Linked DNA regions of Homo sapiens: region 2 is linked to region 1. The links come from fine-mapping of genetic effects on plasma protein levels. A gene starts in region 1. The other region holds a variant in brackets. All regions are shown on one strand. Distances are from middle to middle.

Region 1 (9,875 bases):
TGCCTCCTGGGCTCATGCTTTGCCCTGCGCTAGGTACCCTCTCACAACACAGACCTCTTTCAAAGCCTCCCAGAGACTCTTCTCTCCCCCCCATCACCACGCCAGGGTCTCCCCTTTCTGCATCAGCCCCCATCGGTCTCTGTCTCCAGCACCACCTTCCCCATTCACTCATGACCTGGGATTACAGGTGCGCGCCACCACATCCGGCTAATTTTTTTTGTATTTTTAGTAGAGACGGCGTTTCACCAGGTTGGCCAGGCTGGTCTTGAACTCCTGACCTCGTGATCCACTCACCTCGGCTTCCCAAAGTGCTGGGATTACAGGCGTGAGCCTGTGTGTGAATCCATAACGCAGTTAAACACTGCACAGCCCAGCGTGCTGAGAACTTCACATGTGCATTTGGGGATTCGCCTCAAGCAGTAGAAATGGGAGCAGACATTGTCATCCCTTGCAGAGCTCGTTAAGGCACAGGTTGTCCTGCCTGCCCCAGAGTCTCTGCTCAACCAGTCTAGGATGCAGAGAGTCTACCTTTCTAACAAGGTCCCAGGTAAAGCTGTGGCTGGGGGTCTGGAACCACAGACCTAGAGCAACAGTTGCAAGCTGGTGTCCCGAGAGCCACCTCTGGTCCACAAGGATTTCACACAACAATTCAAAATTTCAGCTTTTCTTTAAAAAAATCAGTACCTCTGTCCACACTGGGTCTTTTTTCCTGTGTGGCCATCACCATTGGCCGTCTACTTCACCTCCCAACCCTACAGCACCTGCCCTTCTCTGTGTCCCGTTCTGGGGCCCTGGGGACCCGGCAGCTGTGGCCTCAAGGCAGGGACTGTGCCTTGGAGTGACACTGAGCCTCCCAGCCTGACACGGTGGGCACACAGCTGCCCTGGAAACCCTGTCCACAGATGATCTGCCTCTCCCCCAACTGGGCAGCCTTCCTCTGAGTGCAGCCCAAACATCATTGCTAAGGGCAAGTTTCTTTTTTTGCTGCCTCCACCCACCCAGAGAAACAGGTTAACAAACAGGGACCAGGCAGGGACAGCACAGCCCCAACCTCAAGGCCACTGTCCCCCACATGCTCTGCACACCAGGAACCCCACAGCCAGTGCCACCCCTGACCTTGGTCAGGAGACCCACCCTGCCCTTGTCTTAGCCCAGAGGTAAGAACCCACAACACAGGCTGGGCACGGAGGCTCACACCTGTAATCCCAGCACTTTGGAAGGCCGAGGTGGGCGGATCACCTGAGGTCAGGAGTTCAAGACCAGTCTGGCCAACATGGTGAAACCCCATCGCTACTAAAAATACAAAAATTAGCCAGGCGCAGTGGCAGGTGCCTGTAGTCCCAGCTACTCGGGAGGCTGAGACACAAGAATCATCTGAACCCAAGAGGCAGAGGATGCAGTGAGCTGAGATCGTGCCGCAGCACTCCAGCCTGGGTGACAGAGTGAGACTCCGTCTCAAAAAATAAAAATAAAAATAAAATAATAAAACAACCTGCAAGACAGAGAGGAGGCTTAAGAAAGATCTGTGTGAGTACGGTACTCCCTTCCTGGTTCCCTGGCCCTGGGTTGACCCTATGTGCAGTGACAAGTGAGGCTTGTCACCCCCAGCCCCGGGGACCAAATCTGAACCTGTGCAGTGGGTTAAATAGCATCTCCTCCAAATCCACATTCACCCGAACCCGAGTGTGACCTTGTTTGGAAATGGGGTCTTTGTGAAGTAGGAGGTAGGACCGACTCCAGAGGCAGAGCCCTGACACTGGACCAAACTGAGGACTAGTGAAAACAGGGGTGGACGGGGCAGAAGCAGCATTCCAAAAGACATGCTCAGCAGTGTGCCATGTCAGTTTACCATTGCCATGGCAACGCCTGGGAGTTACCACCGCTTTCCATAGCAATGACCCAATGTCCCAAAAGTTACTACCCCTTCCCTAGAAATGTCTGCATAAACTGCCCCTTAATCTGCATGCAATTAAAGGTGGGTATAAATATGACTGCAAAAGGCCCCGAGCTGCTCCTCAGTACGCTTCCTCTGGCACAGCCCTGCTCTGCAGGAGCTGGCACAGAGCTATAACATCTCTTCAGTAAAGCTGTTTTCTTCTACCACCAGCTTGCCTTGAATTCTCTCCTAGGGAAAGCCAAGAACCCTCGCAGGCTAAGCCCCCTTGGGGGCTCGCCTGTCCTGTGCCACTTACAGGCATTATTAAATGAAGGATGTCAAGATTAGGCCATCCTGGATTTAGGCAGTTCCCTAAATCCAGTGACTAGTGTCCTAGGAAGAAGAGGAGAGGACATAGAGACACACAAAGGGAAAGGCCACGCAAAGACAAAGGGAGATCTGAGTGACTAGGCCACAAGCCAAGGAAGCCAGGAGCCACCAGGAGCTGGAAGAGGCAAGGGAGGCTCCTTCTCGGCACCTTTAGAGGGAACGCAGCCCTGCAGGCACCCTGATCTCACACTTCCGGTCTCCAGAACTGTGAGACGACACATTCCTGTTGCTCTAAGCCACCCGAAGCTTTCTAATTGGTTATGGCAGCCCAACTTCCTCAGCACCCCAGCCCCTGGGCACCAGCCCCCACCTCAATCTGCTGCTCTCCCTCTCCCTCATCCCCCAGCCAGTCTTTGCCTGGTCCTAAGACCCACCCCTCCTGGAGCTTTTTCCCCTCTCCCTTGCTTTTCTTTCTCTCTTTTTCTTTTCTCCTTTTTTTTTTTTTTTTTTTTTTTAAAGACAGGGTCTCACCCTGTTGCCCAGGCTGCAGTGCAGTGATGCGATCCTTGCTACTGCAGCCTCAACCTCCTGGGCTCAAGTGATCCTCCCACCTCAGCCTCCTGAGTAGCTGGGATTACAGATGTATGCCACCACACCTGGCTAATTTTCCTTTTTTTAGAGATGGAGTCTCGCTATGCTGCCCAGCCTGGTTTCAAACTCCTGGCCTCAAGCCGTCCTCCTGCCTTGGCCTCCCACAGTGCTGGGATCACGGGCGTGAGCCACCAGCCCAGCATCCCTTGCCTTTCATTCGCACCTCCACCTCCAGAATGACCCTCATTCCCTCCTGCACAGACGGTGACAGCAGTAACTCCTACAAACACCACCAGACTGATCTTCAAGAGCAGAGGAACTCCCAATCACGATTCCACCCCCGCCGGGCTCTCAAATCCTCCAGGGCTGCCTGCTATGGGGAGGGAGGCACACTTTGCTTGGCTCTCAAGGCCTCAGCCAGCCGGGTCCAAACCAGCTCCCAGCCTGGCCTCACCATCCCACCGCCAAACCTTTGCTCACACTGGCCCCTCTTCCTGGAACATGGGCCTCATGACCCCAGGTCTACCTGTGTGACCACCACCCCACCTTCTAGACCATTTCCAGTAGCCCCTCCCCCATGCTGCACCCCTGCTTCTCATGACCTAGGGGTTTCCAGAACATTGGGTCCAGCTGGGTCCTTCCACCCATCCTTAATGTCCCAACCCTTTGTTGTATATTTCCACAAGGGCCAGGGTGGACCCAACTCTTCTTTCAATCCCTCGCAGGCTCATACCCCAAACCTCCAACAGTTCCTGAGCACTCAACCCTGTGCCAGGCGTTGGAGACAGAGGCACGAGACAGCAAGGTCCTTGTTGTCATGGCAGTGACTCTGCAGTGGGCACGTGGGAGGCACCGGAAAAATGTGTTGAATTTGAGTCAATTGAACTGGATCTTGGAGACTGAGGGGATCTTGGTCTGGCCTCCCAGCCAGCAGGCATAAGAGGCTTCCAGATCCTTTTTTTCCTTTCTGTCCTCATTTCAACTTATTTTTCTTTTTACCAACAGTGTTATCTTTCTGCTTTTTAATTCTGTTCTGTTATGGAGGGAGGGTTGGAGGGGAACAGGCTGCCTTCTCCAGGCATCTGGCTGCTCTTCTGCCGTGGGTCTTGGGTCCCTAGACACTTTCACCAGCCCCTGCCCCCCTCCACCGGCCATACCCAGGACTGGGCCGCTGCTGCCCGCCCGGGGCTCCCCAACACCCACAAGCCTGGAAAGGTGAGATGCTGCCACCTACCCCCAGTGCCTGCCCCGACCTAAGACCACCCTGAGGACCATGCCCACCCAGCCAGAACTGCCCACCCAGCTTGCCCGTCGGAGCCCGAAGTGAGCGGCAGACAGGGCAGACGGCGGCCGTGGGAATCTCAGAGGGTGTCTGCAGTCCGGCTGGGAAGCATCGCAACTTCTCACCAGCAAGAATGCCCTGGTTGCTATGGTTACGGCAGATCCTGGATCTAGGCCAAGGCCTCCCAATGCAGGTCCCTAGGGACCCCCCAGTACTCACAGCGCAGCCAGGTGAAGCCCCGGGGCATGGTGGTGTTCCTCGTCCCCCTGAGAGCTCAGGCGCCGTCCCCAGCAGTGTGTCCACAGAGGCCTAAGCACGGCCTACATGGCCTCGGGGCAGCAGAGGTGGTCACTCAGTCAGGGAAGGGCTGGCCCTGGAGGAGTGGCTGGGCTGCGGGAGTGAGCAGGTGCCCCAAGGGCAGCAGCTGCCCTTATCTGCCCGGCAGCGTGGAGGACAGCCGGGGGGCGGTGGCCGCAAGTCCCATGGCAGCCCAGAAGCAGGTCTGAGCCGGTGGCTTGGGGGTCTTTCGGGGTCTTCCTTTCCAAGGAGCAGGAGGAGAGAGTCCCTGGCAGGCCCCTCGGAATCTGGGGCTGGGTGACGCTTTCTCTGATTTCTCCGACTGCAGCTGCTCAGTGTGAAATCTGGCTCTAGGAAGAGAAAGGAGGAGAGAAACTGATTATGTAAGAGCAGCGCTGCCACTCAGCCATCAGCCACAGCGCACACCGCACCCACGGCCTGCACAGGACCACCCGGCCCTGGCAGCTGGACACGGCTCACGTGAGAAATGACTTCAGGATGTCCGAACGGCCCTGGCCCATGAGTGAGTTATGATGACACCAGCTGGCAGCCTGGGGCCTGAACAAAAGCAGGACCAAGGAATGAACAGGTGGTTTGAGTTCACACATCGAGAGCCATGGTAGAGTCCATGAATGACTCAGGCTAAAGGACAGGTTAAAAAAGCAGACGAGCTCCCACTCCGAAAACAAGCCGGACGCAATGGCTCATGCTTGTAATCCCAGCACTTTGGGAGGCCAAGGTGGGAGGATTGCGTGAGCCCAGGAGTTCGAGACCAGCCTGGTCAGCATAGTAAGACCTCAGTTCTATTAATAAAAAAAAAATTAAGAAAAAAAAAATTTTTTTGAGACGGAGTCTCAGACTCTGTCATCCAGGCTGTAGTGCAGTGGCGTGATTTTGGCTCACTGCAGCCTCCACCTCCAGGGTTCAAGCAATTCTCCTGCTTCAGCCTCCCAAGTAGCTGGGATTACAGATGTGCACTACCATGCCTGGCTAATTTTTGTATTTTTAGTAGAGATGGGGTTTCACCATGTTGGCCAGGCTAGTCTCAAACTCCTGGACTCAAGTGATCTGCTGTCTTGGCCTCCCAAAGTGCTGGGATTACAGGCGTGAGCCACCGCACCCGGCCAGGACTAAGGTCTTTACATTCACTGAATCTCTCACAACAATCTCATGGAAGTGCAAAATCTCAGTTTATCAATGAGGAAACTGAGGCCCAGAAAGGTTAAGACACTTGTCCAAGGTCATACGGCTTGTAAGAAGTGTGACAGGAATTCAAACCCTGTGGGCTGGTGGCTGCTCCCAAAATTCGACAACCACACAGGGCTCAGCGTGTGTGCGTGGTCCTCCCATCTGCCCCTCTGGACTCTGCAAGGTCTGGACCATTGTGTCTGCTCTGCAGATCAGGCTGGAATTCCGTCTCTGATTTAGTTCTCTTCCATCCCCTCGCCTCCTCCCTGTCTCCCCTCTGGTGGGGGAAAATGGCTACAGAGTGACACCATCGGGGGAGAGCAGGTATGACTTGGGCATCTTCTTCATTGTGTGATCCATGGTGTCACCAAAGAATGCTGGCCCTTACCCTAAGAGGTGCCCAGCAGGCAGGCAGGGCCTTATAGAGAGAACACGGGTTGTTCAAGTTAATCCCTTATGCAGTCACCCTGAATCTCAGCCCCAGTCGCTGCCTGCTGCTGCTCCTCTTTTCCTTGTCCTTCCTCCTTTTCCTCCTTCCTCTTCCTCCTTCTCTTCCTCCTCCTCCTTCCTCGTCTTCCTCCTTCCTCCCTCTTCTTCCTCCTCTTTCCCCCTCCTCCTTCCTACTCTTCCCTCTTCCTTTCTCCTTCCTTCTCTTCCTCCTTCCTCGTCCTCCTTCCTTTTTCCTTCTCCTCCTTCCTCCTCTTCCTCTTCTTCCTCCTTCCTCCTACTCCCTTTCTCTTCCTCCTTCCTCCTCCTCTTCCTCCTTCCTCCTCTTCCTCCTTCCTCCTCCTTCTCCTCCCTCCTCTTCCTCCTTCCTCTTCCACCTCCTTCCTCTTCCTACTTCCTCCTCTTCCTCCTCTTCCCTCCTTCCTCTTCCTCCTTCCTCCTCCCTTCCTCCTTTTCATTCCTCCTCCCTCCTCCTTTTCCTCCCTCCTCCCTCCTCCTTTTCCTCCCTCCTCCCTCCTCCTCTTCCTCTTCCCCCTCCCCCTCCTCCTCCCCCTCCTCCTCCTCCTCACCCTGGCAATTCCCCTGCTGTTACAGCATCACTACAAACACTAACGTATCTAGAACATTTAGTTGTCATTAGTTTGGGGATTTTTTTCAGGTTTATTGAGGGCTAATTTACATATACTACATTTTACCCTTTTCAGTATACATTTCTAAAAGTTTTTAGCACATTTATAGAGCTGTGTAATTACTATAATAATCAAGATACAAAACATTTCCATCTACCCAAAAAATTCATTCCTTTATAGTGGAAGTTGTCTAAACAAACTGAAACAAGGTAGAATAGTATAACAGACCCCCATATAGCAGTTACTCAGATTCAAAAATTGTCAATCTGGCTGGGTGCAGTGTCTCACACCTGTAATCCCAGCACTTTGGGAGGCCGAGGCGGGTGAATCAGTTGAGGCAGAATAAACTCCAAGGAGAAGGGGAAAAAACAACTTCAAATACCAATAGAAAAACAAAAAAGTTATTTCCACAGAGTTGTCCATAAAAGGTCAGGACTTTGAGACCAGCCTGGCCAACATGGTGAAACCCTGTCTCTACTAAAAATACAAAAATTAGCCAGGTGTGGTGGTGCATGCCTGTAATCCCAGCTACTCAGGAGGCTGAGGCAGCAGAATCACTGGAACCCAGGAGGCGGAGGTTGCAGTGAGCCAAGATTGCTCCACTGCCCTCCAGTCGGGGCAACAGAGCGAGATTCTGTCTCAAAACAAAAGAAAAAAATGATCACTCTTCTGTCATTCCAGCTTCACTCATCCCCCAATTTTTTTTTCCAGGAATATTTTAAAGCAAATCTCAAACATGCCATTTCACCAGCATGTAGGGATTTTTAAAATATATAATCACAATATTGTCATCACACAACCCTCAAATTAATAACTCTTTAATATGATTTCATATAGAATCCACGTTCAATTTTCCCTGGTTATTTTTTAAATCTCTGATGTGCATCTTAAGTCTTTTTTCTTTTTAAAAATCAATATATAATTTGCATGCCATAAAATTTACCATTTTAAAGTGTACAGGCTGCGTGTGATGGCTCACACTTGTAATCCCAGCACCTTGGGAGGCCAAGGCCGGGGGATCGCTTCAGCCCAGGGCTTTGAGACCAGCCCGGGCAACATAGTGAGAACCCGTATCTACCAACAAAAATTTTTTTAATTAGGTGGGTGTAGTGGCACGGGCCTGTGGTCCCAGCTACTTGGGAGGCTGAGATGGGAGGATCACTTGAGCCAGGGAGGTCAAGGCTGCAGTGAACCATGATCACGCCACTGCACTCCAGCATGGGTGACAAAGCAAGACCCTGTCTCAAAATAAATAAATAAAGTGTGCAACAGCCAGGTGCAGTGGCTCACTCCTGTCATCCCTGCAGTTTGGGAGGCCAAGGCAGGTGGATCACCTGAGGTCAGGGATTCGAGACCAGCCTGGCCAATATGGCAAAACCCTATCTCTACTAAACATACAAAAGATTAGCCAGGCACGGTGGTGCGCACCTGTAATCCCAGCTACTCAGGAGGCTGAGGCAGGAGAATCACTTGAACCCGGGAGGCAGAGGTTGCAGTGAGCCGAGGTAGTCCCACTGCACTCCAGCCTGGGTGACAGAGTGAGATCCGTCTCAAAAATAAATAAAAATAAATAAAAATAAATAATAAAGTGTACAACTTTGTGGGTTTTTAGTGTACTAAGTTGTGCAACAGTCACCATTATTTAATTACAGAACATTTTCATCACCCCCAAAATAAACTCTGAACTCATTAGCAGTCACCCCCTATTCCCTCTTCCTCCCAGCCCCTGGCAGCCACTAATATTCTTTCTGTCTCTATGGATTTGCCTATTCTGGACATTTCATATAAATGGGATTGATTATGCAATACGGGACCTTTCATGTCTGGCTTCTTTCACTTAGCATGTTTTCAGGGTTCATTCATTTTGTAGCATGTTATGAACTGAATGTTTGTGTCTCTCCAAAATACATGTGTTGAAGTTGTAACCCCTAATGTGGTGGTTCCTGGAGATGAGGCCTTGGGAGATAATTAGGTTTGGATGAGGTCACAAGGATGGGGTCCTTATGGTGGGATAATGCCTTTATAAGAAAAGAAATCAGGCCGGGCTCAGTGGCTCACGCCTGTAATCCCAGCACTTTGGGAGCCCAAGGCGGGAGGATCACAAGGTAAGGAGTTCAAGACAAGCCTGACCAACATGGTGAAACACCGTCTCCACTAAAAATACAAAAATTAGGCGGGCGCAGTGGCAGGTGCCTGTAATCCCAGCTACTCAGGAGGCTGAGGCAGGAGAATCGCTTGAACTCAGAGGGCAAAGTTTGCAGTGAGCCGAGATCATGCCACTGCACTCCAGCCTGGGTAACAGAGTGAGACTCCGTCTCAAAAAAAAAAAAAAAAAAAAAGACATCAGAGTACGCTCACTCTCTCTGTCTCTGTCTTTGTCTCTCTCTCTCTCTGTCTCTTCCCATACTCACACAAAGAACTGGTCATGTGAGTACATAGTGAGAAGGTGGCCATCTGCAACCCAAGGGAAGAGCCCTCACCGGAAATCAATCATGCTGGTGCCCTGATCTCAAAGTTCCAGCCCAGAGAATGGTGAGAAAACAGATTTCTGTTGTTTAAGCCACCCGGTCTATGGTATTTTTTTATGGAAGGCCAGGTAAACTAAGACACAGCATGTATCCGTACTTTACTCTTTTTATTGTCAAATAATGCTCCCTTGCATGAATATCCCACATTTTCTTTGTCCATTTCAGATTGTATTGTTTTCTGGCTTCCTCCAAAATAACTAATGAGGATTTTTAGTGTCATTTTGAAATTATTAATTTTGGCCAGGCGCAGTGGCTCATGCCTATAATTCCAACACTTTGGGAGGTTGCGGGGGGGTGGATTGCTTGAGCCCAGGAGTTCAAGACCAGCCTGGGCAACACAGCAAAACCCTGTCTCTACAAAAAATACAAAAATTAGCCGGACAAGGAGGCATGCACCTGTACTCCCAGCTGCTAGGGAGGCTAAGGTGGGAAGATCACTTGAATCTGGGGAGGTGGAGGCAGCAACAGGCCATGATCATGCCACTGCACTCCAGCCTTGGCAACAGAGTGAGATTCCATCTCAAAAAGTAAAAAAAAAAAGAAAGAAAGGCAGGAAGGAAGGAAGGAAGGGAGGGAGGGAGGAAGGGAGGGAGGGAGAGAGGGAGGGAAAGAATTTTTTTAATTTATGTATTTCAATCCATTGAAGTTACTTTAAAGTCAGGCTTATTGAGGTGTAATTGATGGACAGTGAAGCTCACCTTCTTTAA
Region 2 (8,664 bases), 9.8 kb before region 1:
GGCCACAGGAGGCTCAGTACCCCCTTTAGGCGGGGGGACAGTGAGGGCAGCACCAGGAGAAGCCAGGAGCTGTGTCCCCATCCACCTTCAGGTCCCCAGGTCCCCTCCGCTCCAGGTGAGGCCATGACAGCTATGGAAGGCAGGAAGCTGAGCCCTGCTGTGGCACAGAATCCCCCTCAAAGGAAAAACACCCTTCCCAGGGGTCCTCTCCCAAGGGGGGCTCCCACCACCACCCCTTGAAGTCTCAGACCCAGTTGAACTCCTGTGGGAGCTGGTCTGGCTGCCCCTATCCGCAGTCACCATCCAGGGTGCTCAGGGCAAGAGGCCCTCGCCCTGTGCCCTGACCGGCCTCACCGAGCCCGTGGAGTGAGGCGGGGAGCTGGGGGACCACGGGGGCGGAGGGTACAGCTGGGTGGCCGCATACTGCAATGAGGGCTCTGGGCTGCAAGACTGAGGACTTGGCACCTCACAGTCCTGCCAGTTTAGGACGGAGCTTTGTTTACCTGCAAGAGATAGGGGAAAAAAAAAAAGACTGCAGCAGTGTTCAAGACCACCCTCCCCACTAAGCCAAGCCGCATGTGCTTGTCCCCCACTCTACCCAGGGCCCATCCTGGCTTCCAGAAATGGCTTGTAGCCCCGGGGAGCAGAGGATATGCCCGGGAGGACGCCAGCTCTGCCAGCTGGCCTGGGTGGGCCCAGATGCCTGGCCTCCCACCCCCAGGCGCCATCCCCTGAGAGCTCCTTACAGCAGGAGCAGTACAGCAGCTCCATGACCCGGAAGCAGTTGTCCAGCAGGGCTTTGGGCCGCACCAGCTTCAGGTTTGGCCCTGGGGCATTCAAGAGGGACAACACGGATTCCACCTTGGGGCTGACCTCCACATCCTGGAAAGGAGGAAACAGTCAGGAGCGGTGGCGAGATGGGGCCGCACCCCAGGAGAGCCGTGAGGGCTGTCCAGTCACCTGGAGCTGCCCAAACCCCGGAAGAAGGACCAGACTTCCTGTGACCATGAGCCTGGATAGCTATTTCTCACCATCTTCTTCCTGTGGGCATGGGGAGGGTCCCAGATGCCACCACTCACCCATGTACAACTCAGAGGCTTCGCTTTTCCATCCTTGAAAAATGAGTAAAGGGCGTAGACCAGGACAGTGAGGAAAGTGGGGCAAACTGCACCCAGGCACGGCCACCCACCACTGCGTGAGGACCCCCTGACCTGGGGAAAACTGTCCCTCAAGAAGCAGACATCTCCATCAACTCCAAGGAACAAGAGAAGGTCCTCACAGAGACACTGAGGCTTAAGTCACATACACAGGGCAGGGTGTCCAGCTTCAAGCTGGGGTGCTTTCTCTCCACGATATGCAACAACAGGGTCATGTGGGGTGCACCGTGGCACCAAGGGAATCAAGTCCCTGAACAGGAGGTCAGGGCCACTGTAGAAAGCATCATGGGAAACGTGGGGGGTGATCTTCTGGAAGGGGGTGACAACAAGGCAACATGTCCTGGGCCAAATTGTCCCTCTCCTCCCCCAAAAAGCTGTCTTGGTCCTACCCCTTGGTACCCGTGAATGTGACCCTATTTGGAAATAGGTTCTTTGCAGAGGTAATTAAGTTCAGGATCTTAGAAGGACATCATCCTGGATTTCAGGTAGGCCCTAAATCCAATGCCTGATGTCCTTGTAAGAGAAAGGTGACAGACATGGAAACAGGGCAGAAGGCCATGAAAAGACTGAGACGGCCAGGAATGGTGGTTCAACCTGTAATCCCAGCACTTTGGGAGGCTGAGGGAGGCATATCACTTGAGGCCAGGAGTTCAAGACCAGCCTAACCAACATGGCAGAACCCCGTCTCTACTAAAAATACAGGTGTGGTGGCAGGCATCTATAATCCCAGCTACTTGGGAGGCTGAGGCAGGAGAATTGCTTGAACCTGGGAGACGGAGGTTGCAGTGAGCCAAGATTGCCCCACTGCAATGCACCTGGGCGACACAGTGAGACTCCGCCTCAAAAAAACAAAAAAAGCCACCACAGAGGCCAGGCAGGATGTAATCCCAGTCCTGTAATCCCAGGACTTTGGGAGGCTGAGGCAGAAAGATCACTTGAGGCCAGGGGTTCAAGACCAGCCTGGGCAACATAGCGAGACCCCCATCTCTAAAACAATAAAAAAGAAATAAAATGAAATAAACAGGAAAAAGAGCCACCAAGCAGATCAAGGAGTCTCCTGACTTTGTAGGAATTGACAGCCTCCCCACCAGTCTGGTTCCAGGAAAGCTCCAGGCAGCTGCAAAACAGGTGCTAGTCCCTAAGCCCTTTCACCGTCGGAAGCTCACAGTTGGCCTGGGATGTTCTCCCGACAAGCTGGGCCTTGTCAGCAGCTGGCTGGGCAGGGCAGCAGGTGGATCCCAGGGACAGGTGTGCACCAGAGTCCTGAGGAGGTCTGGTGGAGACGGGGAGAGGTCCCACCGCACACACGGCCTGCATGGGTCATCTCGCCACCTTCCTTTTTTACTACAACTCAGGCATTTTAGAGGATAATATCCCTGAGGCCTCAGATCAATTTCTCTGAGCGGGTCAGGGATGGGGGACCTCTTTTTTTAATTAACTAAAGTCCATAATTTACATTAGGGCTCACACTCTCTGTTGTACAGTTCTGTGGGTTGTGACAAATGCATGATGTCATGTATACAACATGAATGCATTATACAGCATAGTTTTTTGTTTTTTGTTTTGAGATGGAGTTTTTCGTTCTTGTTGCCCAAGCTGGAGTGCAATGGTGCAATCTCAGCTCACTGCAACCTCTGCCTCCCAGGTTCAAGCGATTCTCCTGCCTCAGCCTCCTGAGTAGCTGGGATAACAGGTGCCCACCACCAGGACTGGCTTATTTTTGTATTTTTAGTAGAGACGGGGTTTCACCATTTGGCCAGGCTGGTCTCAAACTCCTGACCTCGGCCTCCCAAAGTGCTGGGATTACAGGCATGAGCCGCCGCGCCCGGCCTGCAGCATGTTTTACTGCCCTAAACATTCCCTGTGCTCCATCCATTCTTCCCCTCTCCCCCTACCCCACCTCCAGGACCCTCGTGTTGCAGAAACAAAGAGGGTACGATGACTTGCCCAGGATCCAGAGGGAGAGAGGCAGAGCCTAGAACAGAGTCTCAGAGGCATCGCCTGCACCCCGAGCCCGGCTCTCATGACCACCACGGCTGCCTCTTCCTTCCACAGGCCTCTTTTCCTGCACCCCTCCCCCACTTCTCCCACGTCCCTCTGCTTGTGCCCATCTTTCCGTGTATTCACCCTTTCCCTCACTAGCCTTTGGCCACACCTCACACACATGTACACACGTGTGCACACACACACACCCCACCTGCCACTCCTCCACACAACTCACCGTGAGGCCCTGCTGGACATTCAGCAGCAGCGTCT[C/G]CACCTCCTGCAGGTACTTCCAGGATGGGTGGCCCTCGAGCAGCACGTCCTGCACCGACTCAGTGGCACTGAGGCTCACCAAGACCCACAGATACCGCAGCTCCCGCTCGCTCACCTGGGCCCTCTGCTGCGGAAACAGGGAAGTCACTGCAACTCGGGAGACATGGGCCTCTGGGCTCTGACCACTCCCTCACCAGGGACTTGCCCCTGCATAGGGAGCAGACGCGGGCCGTCCGCTGTGGACAGTGGACAAACATGTGCCTGGGCCAAGGGCCAGCCTGCTCTCGGGGCTGAGGAGAGGCCCCAGGCCAGCAGCACCACCTGCCAGTCCCAGCGCGCCTCTGAGGCTGGGGCCCACCGGATGTCGCAGGAGGCAGGGTCCCCCCAGCCCAGGAAGGGATTCTCACCAGCCTGGTGACGTTGGCGATTCTGAACACCCCCTCGTAAGGCACACTGATCTTGTAGTTGATGGGGAAGTAGTGTTTCTGGAGAGGCACAAGAACAAACTATGAGGCCAGAAGTAGAAATGACCAGCAGGCTCCCCAACCTCCCAAATGATGTTTTTTTTAACAGTTAGTCTCACTCTGTCACCCAGTATGGAGTGCAGGGGCAGCATCATGGCTCACGGAAGCCTTGACCTCCCAGGCTCAAGCAATCCTTCCACCTCAGCCTCCCAAGTAGGTGGGACTACAGGTGTGTGCCACCACGCCCAGATGATTTTTTTATTTTTTGTAGAGATGGGGTTTCTTCTTGTTGCCCAGGCTGGTCTTGAATCCCGGGCTCAAGCCCCTCAAAGTGCTGGGGTTATAGGTATGAGCCACCATGCCCGGCCTCCAGATGAATTTTGATGTAGGAGGAGAGAACTCAGGGCCCAGACCTTTGACGGCAGAGGTGGTCCTGTGCAGAGAGGTGTGCCTGGCTCCCAGCTGGGATAAAAACACTTCACTTTCCTCTGGGACTCAGGGTGGGTGAAACAAAATACACAGTTCCTGTTAAGGCAGAAATTTCAGGCTCAAGAGTGAGGACACGTTACTTCAAGAAAAACATGTTATTTTGTGGGTGAGAATGTTCTAAAACCTATGATGGTGATGGTTGCACAACTCTGTGAACTAAAAACTCTTTGAGTTGTGCACTTTAAATGAGTAAATTATGTCTTTTATATATAAATATGTAAATTATATCTCAGTAAAGCTGTTAAAATAAAAAAGACACAAGCCAGGTGCAGTGGCTCACGCCTGTAATCCCAGCACCTTGGGAGGCTGAGGAGAGACAGTCACTTGAGCACAGGAGTTTAAGTTTACACTGAGCTATGATCCCGCCACTACACTTCAGCCTGGACAACAGAGTGACACCCTGTCTCTAAAAATTAAATTAATTAATTTAAAAAGATACATTGGTCAGGCATGGTGGCTCACACCTATAATCCCAGCACTTTGGGAGGCCAAGGTGGGCATATTGCTTGAGCCCAGGAGTTCAAGACCACCCTGGGCAACATGGTGAACCCCTGTCTCTACTCAAAAAAAAAGTTTTAATTAGCTGGGCATGGTGGTGCATGCCTGTAGTCCCAGCTACTTGGGAGGCTGAGGTGGGAGGATCATTTGAGCCTTGGAGGTGGAGGTTGCAGTGAGCTGAAATTATCCACTGCACTCCAGCCTGGGCAACAGAGCAAGACCCTGTCTCAAAAGAAAAGAAAAGGATTTTTAGGAAAAGTTAAAAAATTAAAAAGAAAAAAAAAGGGCCGGGCGCAGTGGCTCACGCCTGTAATCCCAGCACTTTGGGAGGCTGAGGCAGGCGGATCACGAGGTCAAGAGATGGAGACCATCCTGACTAACATGGTGAAACCCCGTCTCTACTAAAATTGCAAAAATTAGCTGGGCATGGTGGCGCGCACCTGTAGTCCCAGCTACTCGGGAGGCTGAGGCAGGAGAATCACTGGAACCGGGGAGGTGGAGGTTGCAGTGAGCCAAGATTGAGCCACTGCACTCCAGCCTGGTGACAGACCAAGACTCCGTCTCAAAAAAAAAAAAAGATACATAGAGCCACACAGACATCTCCACTCTGCAAAAAGAACCAAATATTCCGATTTCTAGGTCTTTAGCTCCCTGGCTAATAAGTGCCTGGGGTTTGTCAAAGAGCTCCAGGTGTCCATTCCTGAGTCATATGGTGACTGCCATCATGGAGGTGGGATTAAAGTGAGATCGAGGAGGAGGGGTGGAGGCCCCAGGAGATGGCAGGAGGAGGGTCAGTAAGTGCAGACCAGGTGCATGGGTAGGTTTCGGAGAAAGGCAGAGAAACAGGCCATGGTCGGCTCAGGGCTGACACAGGTCCTAAGAAGGGCTCTGAATGTCCAGAGGCCTATGCCAGGTGAACCCCGGGACGCGGGGACAGGGACACAGCTGGTGCCCACGTGGTTACCATGTACTGAAGTCGGCTCCTGTACTGCAGCTTGTCCCGCAGAAAACCCGTGACAGTGCACTCCTCATTCTGCGTCAAGGGCCACATCTCCAAAGGCTCATTCCCCAAGGCCACGCCAAGGAAGATCCCAAGATCTGTGGACCACACCCGACAAGAGCACATGAGCACCCTCCATCTCATCCACGCCGTCCACAACACGCAAAGCCGAGCACAACCATCATCCATTTGCATAGGAGACAAGCACCAATGGGAAAGGTGTGGTGGGGGGCACGGGATCTGGAATGCTTTCCCTGGGGTCTGGCTCCAGAACAGCAAGGTCAGGCAGGCACTAGCAGTGCAGAGAGTCCACACCCACCCCATGCCGGCCACTGGAGCCCCCCAGGAGGCACGCCTCAGGGTCGACGTCTGGTCTCCCCGCTTCTGTCGCTCCGTGGGGCAGGCACAACCTCCCGCCCAGAACAGCCTCTGCCCCTGGTGTCCGGGTGATATGTTTTCAAAGCTCGTTGCTGGGTTTTCCAGCCCGGCATTCAGGAGATCGAATCATCCTGGATTCTGGTTTCAACTTGATAAAATGACTCTTCAGTCACCCACGCCCCACACCACTTTCCTTCCTGCTCTATCTGATCTTAGTGTCCCTCCCAGCTAACTATGCCAGCGGGTCTGTAGCGCCTTCCAGTCTGGTCATTCTAGGACGTTAAGCAGATCTCATACTTGGCTGCCTCTCTTCCTGCAACAAACGAGCCGCTGAAACATTACCATCCTTTGCCACTGGGGGTCACTGTGACTCCAAAAACAGCCTATACGATTTCCATGTGACTGAACAGAAAAAAAGGAGAGAATTCGCAACAAATATGAATAAAGGTTAAGTCCATCAGAGCAGAAAGAATAAAACAGAAGTAGGCCAGCAACTACCCAAAATATCAGACTCACTAACTAGATAAATAAATTCACATTAAAACAATCAGATATAATTTTTCTTTTTCTTTTTTTTGGTCACCCTGGCTGGAGTGCAGTAGTGGGATCATGGCTCATTGCATCCTAGAACTCCCAGACTCAAGCGATCCTTCTGCCTCAGCCTCCAGAGTAGCTAGGACTACAGTTGCATGCTACTACGCCTGCTAATTTTTGTATTTTTTGTAGAGACCTGGTATCGCCATGTTGGCCAGACTTGCCTCGAACTCCTGAGCTCAAGCAATTCTCCTGCCTCAGCCTCCCAAAGTGCTGGGATTATAGGTGTGAGCCACTGTGCCTGGCCCATTTTATTCAAATGAAAAAGTTTTTGTGTTTGTGGTTTTGGGTTGTTGGGGCTTTTTTTTTTTTTTTTTGAGACAGGGTTTTGCTATGTTGCCCAGGCTTGTCTGAAACTCCTAGTGTCAAGCGGTCCTTCCATCGTGGCCTCCTGAGTAGCTGGGATGAGAGGCATGTGCCACTACACCCAGCTTCCCAGCTTTTTCTTTTTTAGACAGAATCTTTCTCTGTCACCCAGGCTAGAGTACAGTGGCACAATCTCAGCTCACCGTAACCTCCACCTCCCAGGCTCAAGCAATTCTCGTGCCTCAGGCCTCAGCCTCCCAAGTAGCTGGGATTACAAGCAGGGGCTACTACACCCGGCCAATATTTTGTATTTTTAGTAGAGATGGGGTTTCACCATGTTGGCCAGGCTGTTCTCAAACTCCTGACCTCAAGTTGATCTCCCTGCCTCTGCCTCCCAAAGTGCTGGATTTACAGGCACGAGCCACCATGCCCGGTCATACACCCAGCTCATTTCGTTTTAACAATTACTACTTGATGTTGGCCAAGTAGTGAGACAAGTGCTGTCCTGGAAAGCAATTTAGCAATTTCTGTTATTAATCGATTTAGTAGTATCCGCACCCTTCAAACCACTAAGCCTTAAAAATGTCTATACTCTTTCACCCAGTAAATACACTTCTAGGAATAAATTGGAAGAAAAGCAAAAAAGATATAACCAATAAATTATGAACAAAGATGTACAGAGCAGCATTTATTTTATAACAGTGAAAATCTGGAAATGGCCTAGACGTTCCATAATAATGCATGTAGCCAATAAAAATCACATTGTCAAAGATGTGGCTGTGCTATGAGAACAATTAGATATGCTTAGTGAAGCTTAAAAACAGCATGACTCAACACTATCTGTGTTCATAGCATGACTACCAAATCTCTATGGGAGATTTTTTCATGTTTTTCTTTTCAAATAGGGTCTTGCTCTGTCGCCCAGGCAGACAGGTGCAGTGGCACCATCATTGTTCACTGCAATCTCAAACTCCTGGGTTCAAGCAATCCTCCTGCCTCAGCCTCCCAGTAACTGGTACTACAGGTGCCACCACCACACCCAGCTAATTTTTTTTTTAATTTTTTGTAGAGAGGAGGTCTTGCTGTTTTGCCCAGGCTGGTTTTGAACTCCTATGCTCAAGTGATGCTCCCACCTTGGCCTCCAAAAGTGCTGGGATTACAGGCATGAGCCACCACACCTGGCCTTGGCCTTGCAGGACATTTATTTTTATTTTTATTTATTTTTTTTTTGAGACGGAGTCCCGCTCTGTCACCCAGGCTGGAGTGCCGTGGCGCAATCTTGGCTCACTGCAACCTCCGCTTCCTGGGCTCATGCCATTCTCCTGCCTCAGCCTCCCGAGTAGCTGGGATTACAAGGTGTGCGCCACCACATCCAGCTAAATTTTTTTGTATTTTTAGTACAGACGGGGTTTCACCAGGTTGGCCAGGCTGCTCTTGAACTGCTGACCTCGTGATCCACCCACCTCAGCCTCCCAAAGTGCTGGGATTACAGGCATAAGCCACCGCACCCACCCAGGACATT

Which allele goes with the higher level. Positions count from the first base shown, and alleles are read on the strand shown. Strength reflects both the effect of a copy and how common the allele is.
For the plasma level of the protein whose gene starts at base 4,715 in region 1, allele C in region 2 goes with a higher level than allele G (strong association).

Evidence for each region. PIP is the posterior inclusion probability: the model's chance that the variant is causal. Protein levels are from antibody-based Olink assays in UK Biobank. Linkage for the fine-mapping came from a reference panel and not from the study's own genotypes, which makes the PIPs less certain.
Region 2: its variant is fine-mapped to the plasma level of the IL34 protein (UK Biobank, PIP above 0.99). The variant lies in the coding sequence of IL34. If it changes the protein, the assay may bind it differently, which can mimic a change of level.

The regions. Positions count from the first base shown.
Region 1 is chr16:70,641,399-70,651,273 of GRCh38, reverse strand. It overlaps IL34 (interleukin 34), which reads right to left and starts at 4,715. Exons shown (of 6, transcript NM_001393494.1): 1 at 4,299-4,715. The coding sequence starts at 4,326. RefSeq lists an enhancer at 983-1,483.
Region 2 is chr16:70,651,836-70,660,499 of GRCh38, reverse strand. It overlaps IL34 (interleukin 34), which reads right to left. Exons shown (of 6, transcript NM_001393494.1): 2 at 5,829-5,962; 3 at 3,821-3,898; 4 at 3,379-3,540; 5 at 747-882; 6 at 1-503. The coding sequence ends at 313. Among named protein-coding and RNA genes, the nearest start is that of IL34, 9.6 kb to the right of the region's middle. The variant C/G (reference allele first, on the strand shown) is at 3,414.